Linked DNA regions of Homo sapiens: region 2 is linked to region 1. Evidence: fine-mapped expression QTL. A gene starts in region 1. The other region holds a variant in brackets. All regions are shown on one strand. Distances are between the middles of the regions. Region 1 holds the start of C1QTNF3 (C1q and TNF related 3). Region 2 has its middle 190 kb from the start of C1QTNF3-AMACR.

Evidence for each region. PIP is the estimated chance that this variant, and not a neighbour inherited with it, causes the effect.
Region 2: its variant is fine-mapped to the expression of C1QTNF3 in testis (GTEx, PIP above 0.99).

What each region holds. Positions count from the first base shown.
Region 1 is chr5:34,040,973-34,045,373 of GRCh38, forward strand. C1QTNF3 (C1q and TNF related 3) reads right to left here and starts at 2,241. Exons shown (of 6, transcript NM_181435.6): 1 at 1,851-2,241. The coding sequence starts at 2,153. All of the region lies in intron 1 of C1QTNF3-AMACR (C1QTNF3-AMACR readthrough (NMD candidate)), which reads right to left.
Region 2 is chr5:34,316,166-34,320,566 of GRCh38, forward strand. No RefSeq gene overlaps it. Among named protein-coding and RNA genes, the nearest start is that of C1QTNF3-AMACR, 190 kb to the left of the region's middle. The variant T/C (reference allele first, on the strand shown) is at 1,923.

The DNA.
Region 1 (4,401 bases):
CAAAAATTTATCTCTACTACAGCCCTTCAGGATGGTTTGGACATGGGAGCTCAGGCATATTTATCTTTATATATCCCTGGCCCCCCTTTTAAAGTTTGGTACAAAGTAGAAGCACAAGAAATACACGGGAACTGAATGAATAAGAGGAAAATTGAATTACGATCAAAGAAGAGGGACAGGGGAAGTAGGGAAAGAAGGAAGAACATAGCACAATCCTAAATGCAAACTGTGGTTTCCATAGCCGTTGGTAGAGGAGTTGTAGTGAAAACTTCCAGAATGTCAGTAACTCTAAATATCCTCAATATCTCCTGTTGGTGGTTTGTTTGAAAATACTTCAGGAACCTAGAAGGTAGAGTGAAGGAGAAATGTGATTTGAATTTCAGTGGCCTGCTGGGTGTTGGTTGTCAGGACATAATGACCAAAGACAACCTTTAACTTCCTTCTGCTTCCTCTGGGGGAATCACACTGTCATGGCCAGGAAAGATACCATCTGTTGGCCAAGAAGGATACCATGTGTGAAATGGAAAGTCCAGATCAAGTCTTGGACACAAGTGAAAATATCTTCACCACAAAACAAAAACAAACAAAAACCCACACACAAATTAGTGCTAATCATTACCCTTTAGCCAAAAGATTATCAGATGAATAGACAATCTCTAAAAGTGGTTTTCAAAAGATAGGATCATATTTAGAGATTATCATTTCTTCCGTGGCTCCTTAAAGAAGCAATTTTCTCTGGATGCATCCCCCACAGAATGGTTTGGGCAACTGCCTTGTGTGGTCAAGTTAGAAGTTCTGGGTTAGTTTCAAATCTGCAATTGATTCTGTGTGTGATCTTGGTCTGACCATATAACCAAACAACCAACCCAAACTTCTGAATCCATGGTAGGAAGGATTTAGATTTCAATTACAAGAAATTCTTCAGGTCCTATTTAATGCATTAAAGTAATCAAATCTTGTAGTAAAAACCTGTATGTTCAAATATCATATAACTCAAAGTAACTCTTCTTGCCCCCTCTGACAGTTTTCAGCATACTAGATGTCTAGAGGGTAATTCAAAATATGTCTCTTCCTGTACTTAATATTTTAAATTACATTGAGTTTCACCAATTTGCAATTCACTATACTGAAATCTTAACTCACTCTCATACTACCAAGAGTTAAAGATATTTCCTTAGAGCTGAATTTATAACCTGAGAAATAGATCAAGTCCTCTGTGATTATCAGGCATCAAATCATGCTATAAGGTATGCATTTCAAACAGTTTATTTTTTATTTAACTCTTTAATTCTTTTTAAAACAGGCTGAACAGAGAGGCTTAACAATCTAGAATGCTATAAATCAAATAAACAAGACTGCCATGAAATGTCACAGTATACTCACAAATCAAAGTAAAAAAACTTTGATTGCTTTTGACAAACTCAAAGGGCAGCTTCTCCCTGCCGGAAGGGATGAAGAAAGCCCAATTCTCTTAAGAACAACAAATGATTGTCTACAGTGACCGATCTGTCTGCATGGGTCAGCACTCCTTTCCGGACCAACAGAGCAAGAAGGAAATCAAGTCCCAGCATAGCAGGAAGCTGGCTGGCCAGGTTCCCCTTTCTGATGGGGTGATGCTACGGCCACTATCCCATCACATCATTGCTGCCTCTGCTGATTTTCTAACAGAGACCGACAGTCTCTCTTGTACCCAAGAGCAATCCAGAAAGAGATTCACAAGCAGCTTAGCGAACTTCTCGAAAGCATTCATTGATTCTAAGAATCTTAGCCAAAAAAAGAACAACAACAAAACAACAACAACAACACTCATTAAGCTTTCACAAAAATCCTTAGAAGAGAATTCTGAGTACCTGGCCCCAGAATGTGGTGATCTGGGCTAGGTCATCTACCTCGGGGTGCGGTAGCTCATCTGGTCTCAGGGATTTTAGGTCTGTAGAAGTGTTATTATCCACAGTCCCAGTTTTAGGATGGCTCCGCTCTCTCACTTTCTCCCTCCTGGAGCCGCTACGGCCAGTCTGCTGGTGGCTTTGCACTATTCTTGCCACCACTTTATTAGTTCTTCCGCTCACCTCCATGTATTCATCTTGACACAGGCAAAAAGGGAGGAAAAACAAAGCCAGCAGTTGCCAATAGATGAGCTGCCTCCAAAGCATGATTCTCAACAGAGCCTCAGAGTCTCCCTGAGAAGACAGCAGAGCTCCAGGAGCGTGGTCTCCTCGGGCAGATGCCAGGACTGGAGCTGAGAGCTGCAGCGGCGGAGTGGTTTTATACTTTGGTGTGTAATAAATAAGGCTGTAGGCATGCCAGAGTGACAGCAGCCCTCCTCCCCAGGCAGAACAGCCCCCATTCATCATTTTCCCACACCACAAGCAAGAACGATTTGTGTGCACAGTTCCCAGTTGGCGAAATTCATAAATGTCACACCTTGGCACGTTTCTGTTGAAGTGTGAAGAAAACATACACAACCAGCTGGGAACAGAGAGCATGTGTCCAGCAGTTTGCTTTTGTGATTAGACATGGAAAGGCTGTGTATTTGCAGTCTAAAAAGCCTTTTGGAAAAATCTACCCTTGTGCTTGCCAGGAAATTCAGGCTTAACTGCATCAGTTTTGTCTGAAATAGCAGTGGGAACCCATTCAGGGCTTTCACGACAGCTCTTGGTTTCTAGCTGTACTGTTAGTATTTCCCCACTTTGGCCCACTTAAGGTAACTCATTTCCCCTTCCGGATACCAGTGGCAGAAGGCAGTTGGTTGCCTACAAAACACTGAGCAGGATTCAGGTGCAGTGTCTCTGGGTTTAGCAAAGGTATTTCGCCACCCTCAGCTTTACTTCTTTTCCCCATGACTTCCCAAAAGCCAAAATTAAATCAAAGTTAACTAAGTCACTTATTGTCAGATGAAGATACAACACCCTGCTTTGTGTTAAGAGAAGGCTGTCTCTGGCTCCTCTTTCTTTTGACATATTCTTGATTAAAATAGAAACGGGGCCGGGCACAGTGGCTCATGCCTGTAATCCCAGCACCTTGAGAGCCCAAGACAGGTAGATCCCTTGAGCCCAGAAATTCGAGGCCAGCCTGGGCAACTTAGTGAGACCCTGTCTCTACTTAAAAAATAAATAAATAACAAAACTGAAGAAGTGGAAAGCACCAAACACGTTATTTCAAACACAGCGTATCCAGATTAAGAGGATTCTCATGTCTTTGCTTTAGTTGCTATACTTTTATTAATTCAGCCAAAAAGAAAATGGACATTCCTAATTGCTTCAGGATAATAAATTAAGAGAATTTAAACAGTTTTGTCATCAAAAATTGCTTCTATTTACATATGATTTTATTTATATTACTCATTCACTCGCTTAAGAAAATGTTACTGGCCTTCTCTCATGAAAACTGGAGAGACCCAGGACCGTAAATAGCATGGGTGGCAAGCGTCTGATGAGAAGGGGGCGAGGAGGCACTGTGGGAAACTGAGGCTTGGAGAAGCTCAGCCTGCTGATGAAGAGTCAGAGCAGCTGGGGAAAGGGGAGAGGAGAGAGAGCTGTTGACAGCTGCCCCCATTGCTCAGCCAAGGGCCTGAGAACCAAGAGCCATCTCTGGAAGTGGCCAGAACTGTCAAAACTAGCCTGGCCCCTCCTGCAGCTACCAGAACAGCCGCTTCCAGAGTCCACACTTATACATGGAAAGGGTTTGGTGCTGGGGACGGAGGGAGAGAGTTACTCTGTGAACTAAAAGCTCTCCAGGCCACAGTTCAGGGGCCTTGGGAGTCATGTTCAGTCCAAGCAGTCAGTTCCCACCTAGTAGGGCATAAAAATTCAGCCATCTCTGTGCTACAAGTCTACCCTTGAGCATCTAAACCTTCCTCACTGGAGGATTCCTTGAGTTCTGTCATGTCCACCATTAAAAGGTAGATGTCCCTGGGAAGGGAAGTGTGTCAAACTGTTATTCTTAGTAACTGAGGATTTTCTTCCCAGACCTGGAGCTGGAGCTGGGGAAAGGATGGCGCCTGTGTTTGGAGGGTGAGCAAGTGGATGGGCTTTTGCTGTGGGAAGGAAAGCCCAGAGCAGTGTCTCAGTGGGGGTGTTCCCTCCTCAGGGAGGCCCAGAGAAAATGTCACAGGGAGACCACAAAGCAAGCAGTGGCTCTGAAATCTAGGTCACCCAATTCACAGGTTTTCCAAGAGCTGTCTCTGGCTCTCACCATCATGCATCCCCCACGAAGTGGGCCATACTGCTAAGTAACTATAAATCAGCCTCTGACTTTCTACCGCATTGAGACTTTCCATTCGTGTTTTCAATCCTGTCATCTATTCTAGTGGTTCTCAACCCTGGCTGCATATTAAACCAAGGAGCTTCTAAAAATATTAATGCCTGGACTCTATCCCAGACCAATTGAGTCAGAATCTGT
Region 2 (4,401 bases), 280 kb after region 1:
TCGCCTTTATAAACTCCCTTTCATATATAGGATATATATAGGATATATAGATACATATCTCACTAATAGGATACATACATATATCCTATTAGTTCTGTCCCTCTGGAGAACCCTAATACACTGAACTACTTTGTCCTATTTTGGGTCATAAGATCCCCATTTCAGGAGGGGTCCTGCTCCAAGCCCTATAGAAAAGAATGCTGCACAGAGGGGCCAAGAAGAATCTGGGCAGACAGGCCTTGCTGGGTTTTCCACTCAGTATTAGATCACACTCATTTCATCCAATCACATTTTGACATGGTGGTCCATAACTTAGTCATACCTCTCCATGGAAGTCTTCCTAAAAGGCCCAAGAGAATGGGGGATGGAGAGCTTCTGGACAGCTGAACTTGTGAAGGCTTACAGAAAGGTGAACAAGAGCTCACATATGTGCCAGGAGGGTGGCACGCCCCCAATCCATGAGACAGAAGCTCCTGTGCTCAGGACCCTTCCAGACCTCTCCCTATATATTTATCCATGTGACTGTTTATTTGTATCCTTTAAAATGTTATTGATAATAAAAGGGTAAATGTAAACAGATGTTTTTCTGGGTTTTCTGAGACACTTTAACAAATTAATAGAGCCTAAAGAGAAGGCCATGGGAACTCCAACTTGAAGCAATAGATCAGAAGTTCCAAGGGTCTGGACTTGTGACTGGTGAAGGAACTGGGGGCAGTCTTGCGGGACTGAGCTCTCAAGCTGTGGAGATCTGACATAATCTTCAGGTAGGCAGCATCAGAATTGAACTGGATCAGGAGCTGCCAGCTGATAGCTGCTGTAAAATTGCTTGCTTGCTTGTGAACAGAGAGAAATCTCCACACATTTAGTCACAGAAACTTCTTGTGTTGATAACTGTGGCATGAGAACAGAAGAAAAACATATGTTTTGTCTACATAGTAGGTGATAAAGGTCTAATATGGTTTGGATTTGTGTCCCAGCCCAAATTTCATGTTGAATTGTAATTCCCAGTGTTGGATGTTGGGCCTGGTGGGAGGTGATTGGATCATGGAGTCGATTTCTCATGAATAGTTTAGCCCCATTCGCCCTTGGTGCTGTTCTCATAATAGTGAGTGAGTTCTTATGAGATCTGGTTGTTTAAAACTGTATGGCACCTCCCCCAGCCCTTGCTGCTCCAGCCCTGTGAAGTGCCAGCTCTGCCTTTGCTTTCTGCCATGATTGTAAGTTTCCTGAGGCCTCCCCAGAAGCTAAGCAGATGCCAGCATCATGCTTCCTGGACAGCCTGCAGAGCCAATTAAACTTCTTTTATTTATAAGTAACCCAGTCTCACTTATTTCTTTATAGCAGTGGGAGATACTAGATTCTTCAGCTGATTTCTTCTCATGACTAGCACTGAATTATAAGAACATCCTTAGACTAAGCACCGATGAAATGGAGTCGGATTATTACTGCTTTGACAAAGTATGATTCATCACCTGGGACCCTGGTGGGGTTTTACCTCTCTGAGATCGAGGTCTCTCCGGCATTTCCCGAATGCAATGGAATTGCATTGCCTGGTACTTAAAGCAGGGCGAGTGAGGACACTAGACATTCAACAGTAATTTCCACAAGCATAAGATACAAGGCCCACTACAACTTTGTGCATTTCTCTTCCAGATTTAGGAAAAGTAAAGGTGATCATATTAAAAACAAACAGACAACAACAACAACAACAAAATAAACTAAACTCCAAGACTGCTTAGATAGCCTGGAACTGCATACAACTTTTGTACTATAAAGTAGTTTGGAATTAATATAATTGTTAAAGATAAAACAAAGATAGCTGGGGACTTATTCTAATTCTTAATATTAGTGAATGAGACCATTTTTCAATTCTGTGAAGTTTTGTTTTATAGACTGTACAGTATTAAAGGAGTAAACTACTG[T/C]CTTCTGTCAATATGCATTTGTACCTCAGAAAGGATACAATAACTTATGGCAAGTTATTCCTTGTAAAGATACAGTCGTATGTTTATTTTTATCTACTTATGGTTTTTGTGCCTTATTTTCTCTACCTGTCCAACAGTGGTCAATTGGAAATATTACTGAGCTTTATTTTTTCTTCTATTTTTTGTTACATAAACTGTAAATTTCCATAATCTCAAAAAATGTACAAAAGGTGAGAATATTTACAATCTCTATGACCTGCGTATTGATGAGACTGATACCACCCTCAAATATTTTCGCCTAATAGATAATAAACATGAGTCTACTTTGAAACAGTGCTAAGTGAGAAATTAGTTATTCTTTGAAATCTTGATATAATTGCTTGTTTCAAAATAAGTATGCATTCTTTTTATTTGAATCTGTATCACTTCCCTGTGACTTAGCCTACTTCATCTAATATTTTAAGGCACACAATTATATGGGGAGATTGTTAGAAATGCAATATCTTAGCCTGTACTACCAGACATTATAATTCAGTAGAACAAGACTGGGGCTGTGGAATTTTGCCTCTTTCGTGTACTCTAGATTGTTCTGATGCATGCCCTCTATGAATCTTTGAATCCTTCTAGGGAAAACAACTGCAGTACATTTGATGTTTTTGTAACATTTATTTTAAGTTCAGGGGTACATATGCAAACTCTTCAGGTTTGTTACATAGGTACATGTGTGTCATGAGGGTTTGTTGTACACATTATTTCATCACCCAGGTATTAAGCCTGGTATCCATTAGTTATTTTTCTTGATCCTCTGCTTCCTCCCATCCTTCACCCTCTTATAGACCCCAGTGTGTGTTGTCCCCTCTGTGTCTGTGTGTTCTCATCATTTAGCTCCCACTTATAAGTGAGAACATGCAGTACTTGCTTTTCTGTTCTTGTGTTAGTTTGCTCAAGATAATGGTATGCAGCTCCATCCCTGTCCCTGCAAAGAACATGGTTCCCTTCTTTTTTATGGCTGCATAGTATTCCATGGTGTATATGTGCCACATTTTCTTTATACAGTCTATCACTGATGGGCATTTGGTTTGGTTCCATGTCTTTGTTATTGTGAATAGTACTACAATGAACATATGTGTGCATGTGTCTTTATAATATGAATAGAATAAATAATTTATATCCCCTGGGTATATACTTAGTAATGGGATTGCTGAGACAAATGGTATTTCTGTCTTTAGGTCTTTGAGGAACCACCTCACTGTCTTCCACAATGACTGAACTAATTTATAGTCCCATCAACAGTGTATGGCCAGGTGCAGTGGCTCATGCCTGTAATCCCAGCACTTTGGGAGGCCAAGGCAGGCAGATCACATGAGGTCAGGAGTTCGAGACCAGCCTGGCCAACATGGTGAAACCCCATTTTTACTAAAAATACACACACACACACACACAAACACACACACACACACACACACACATTAGCCGGGCATGGTGGCATGGGCCTGCAGTCCCAGCTGCTTGGGAGGCTGAGGCAGGATAATTGCTTGATCCCAAGAGACAGAACTTGCAGGGATCCGAGATCGTGCCACTGCACTCCAGCTTGGGTAACAGAGTGAGGTTTCATCTCGGAAAACAAAACAAAACAAAAAACAAAAAACAACAACAACAACAAAAACAAAACAGTGTATAAGCGTTCATTTTTCTCCACAACCTTGCCAGCATCTGTTATTTTTTGATATTTTAATAATAGTCATTTCAACTGGTGTGAGATGGTGTCTCATTGTGGTTTTGATTTGCATTTCTCTAATGATCAGTGATACTAAGCTTTTTTTTTCAAATGCTTGTTGGCTGCATGTAGGTACAAACCACTGCTCAAAGAAATCAGAGATGACACAAACAAGTGAAAAAACATTCCATGCTCATGCATAGAAAAAGTCAATATAATCAAAATGATCATACTGCTCAAAGCAATTTATAGATTCAATGCTATTCCCATTAAACTACCATTGATATTTTTCACAGAACTAGAAAAAATGATTTTAAAATTCATATGGAACAAAAAAAGAGTCCAAACTGCCAACACAATCCTAAGCGAAAAGAACAAAGCTGGAGGCATCACGCTATCCGACTTCAAACTATACTACAGGGTTACAGTAACCAAAATAGCATGGTGCTGGTACAAGAATAGATGCACAGACCAATGAAACAGAATAGAGAATGCAGTAATATGATGACACGCCTGCAATTATCTGATCTTCGACAAACCTGACAAAAAAAAAAAAAAAAGAAATGCAAATTCTTCATCGCCAATCAAATCTACTAGAAATAAAAACAAAACAAACAAACCAGCAAACAAAACTCTCTGTGGTTGGGGCCTCAAGCTTCAGAAGTGGTGACTTCTTTGTGAACTACTTTAGGGAATTATATTGCACACAATAAAAAAAAATCTGGATTCTGAATCAACACTAGTAGGAAAACTGTGAACCAA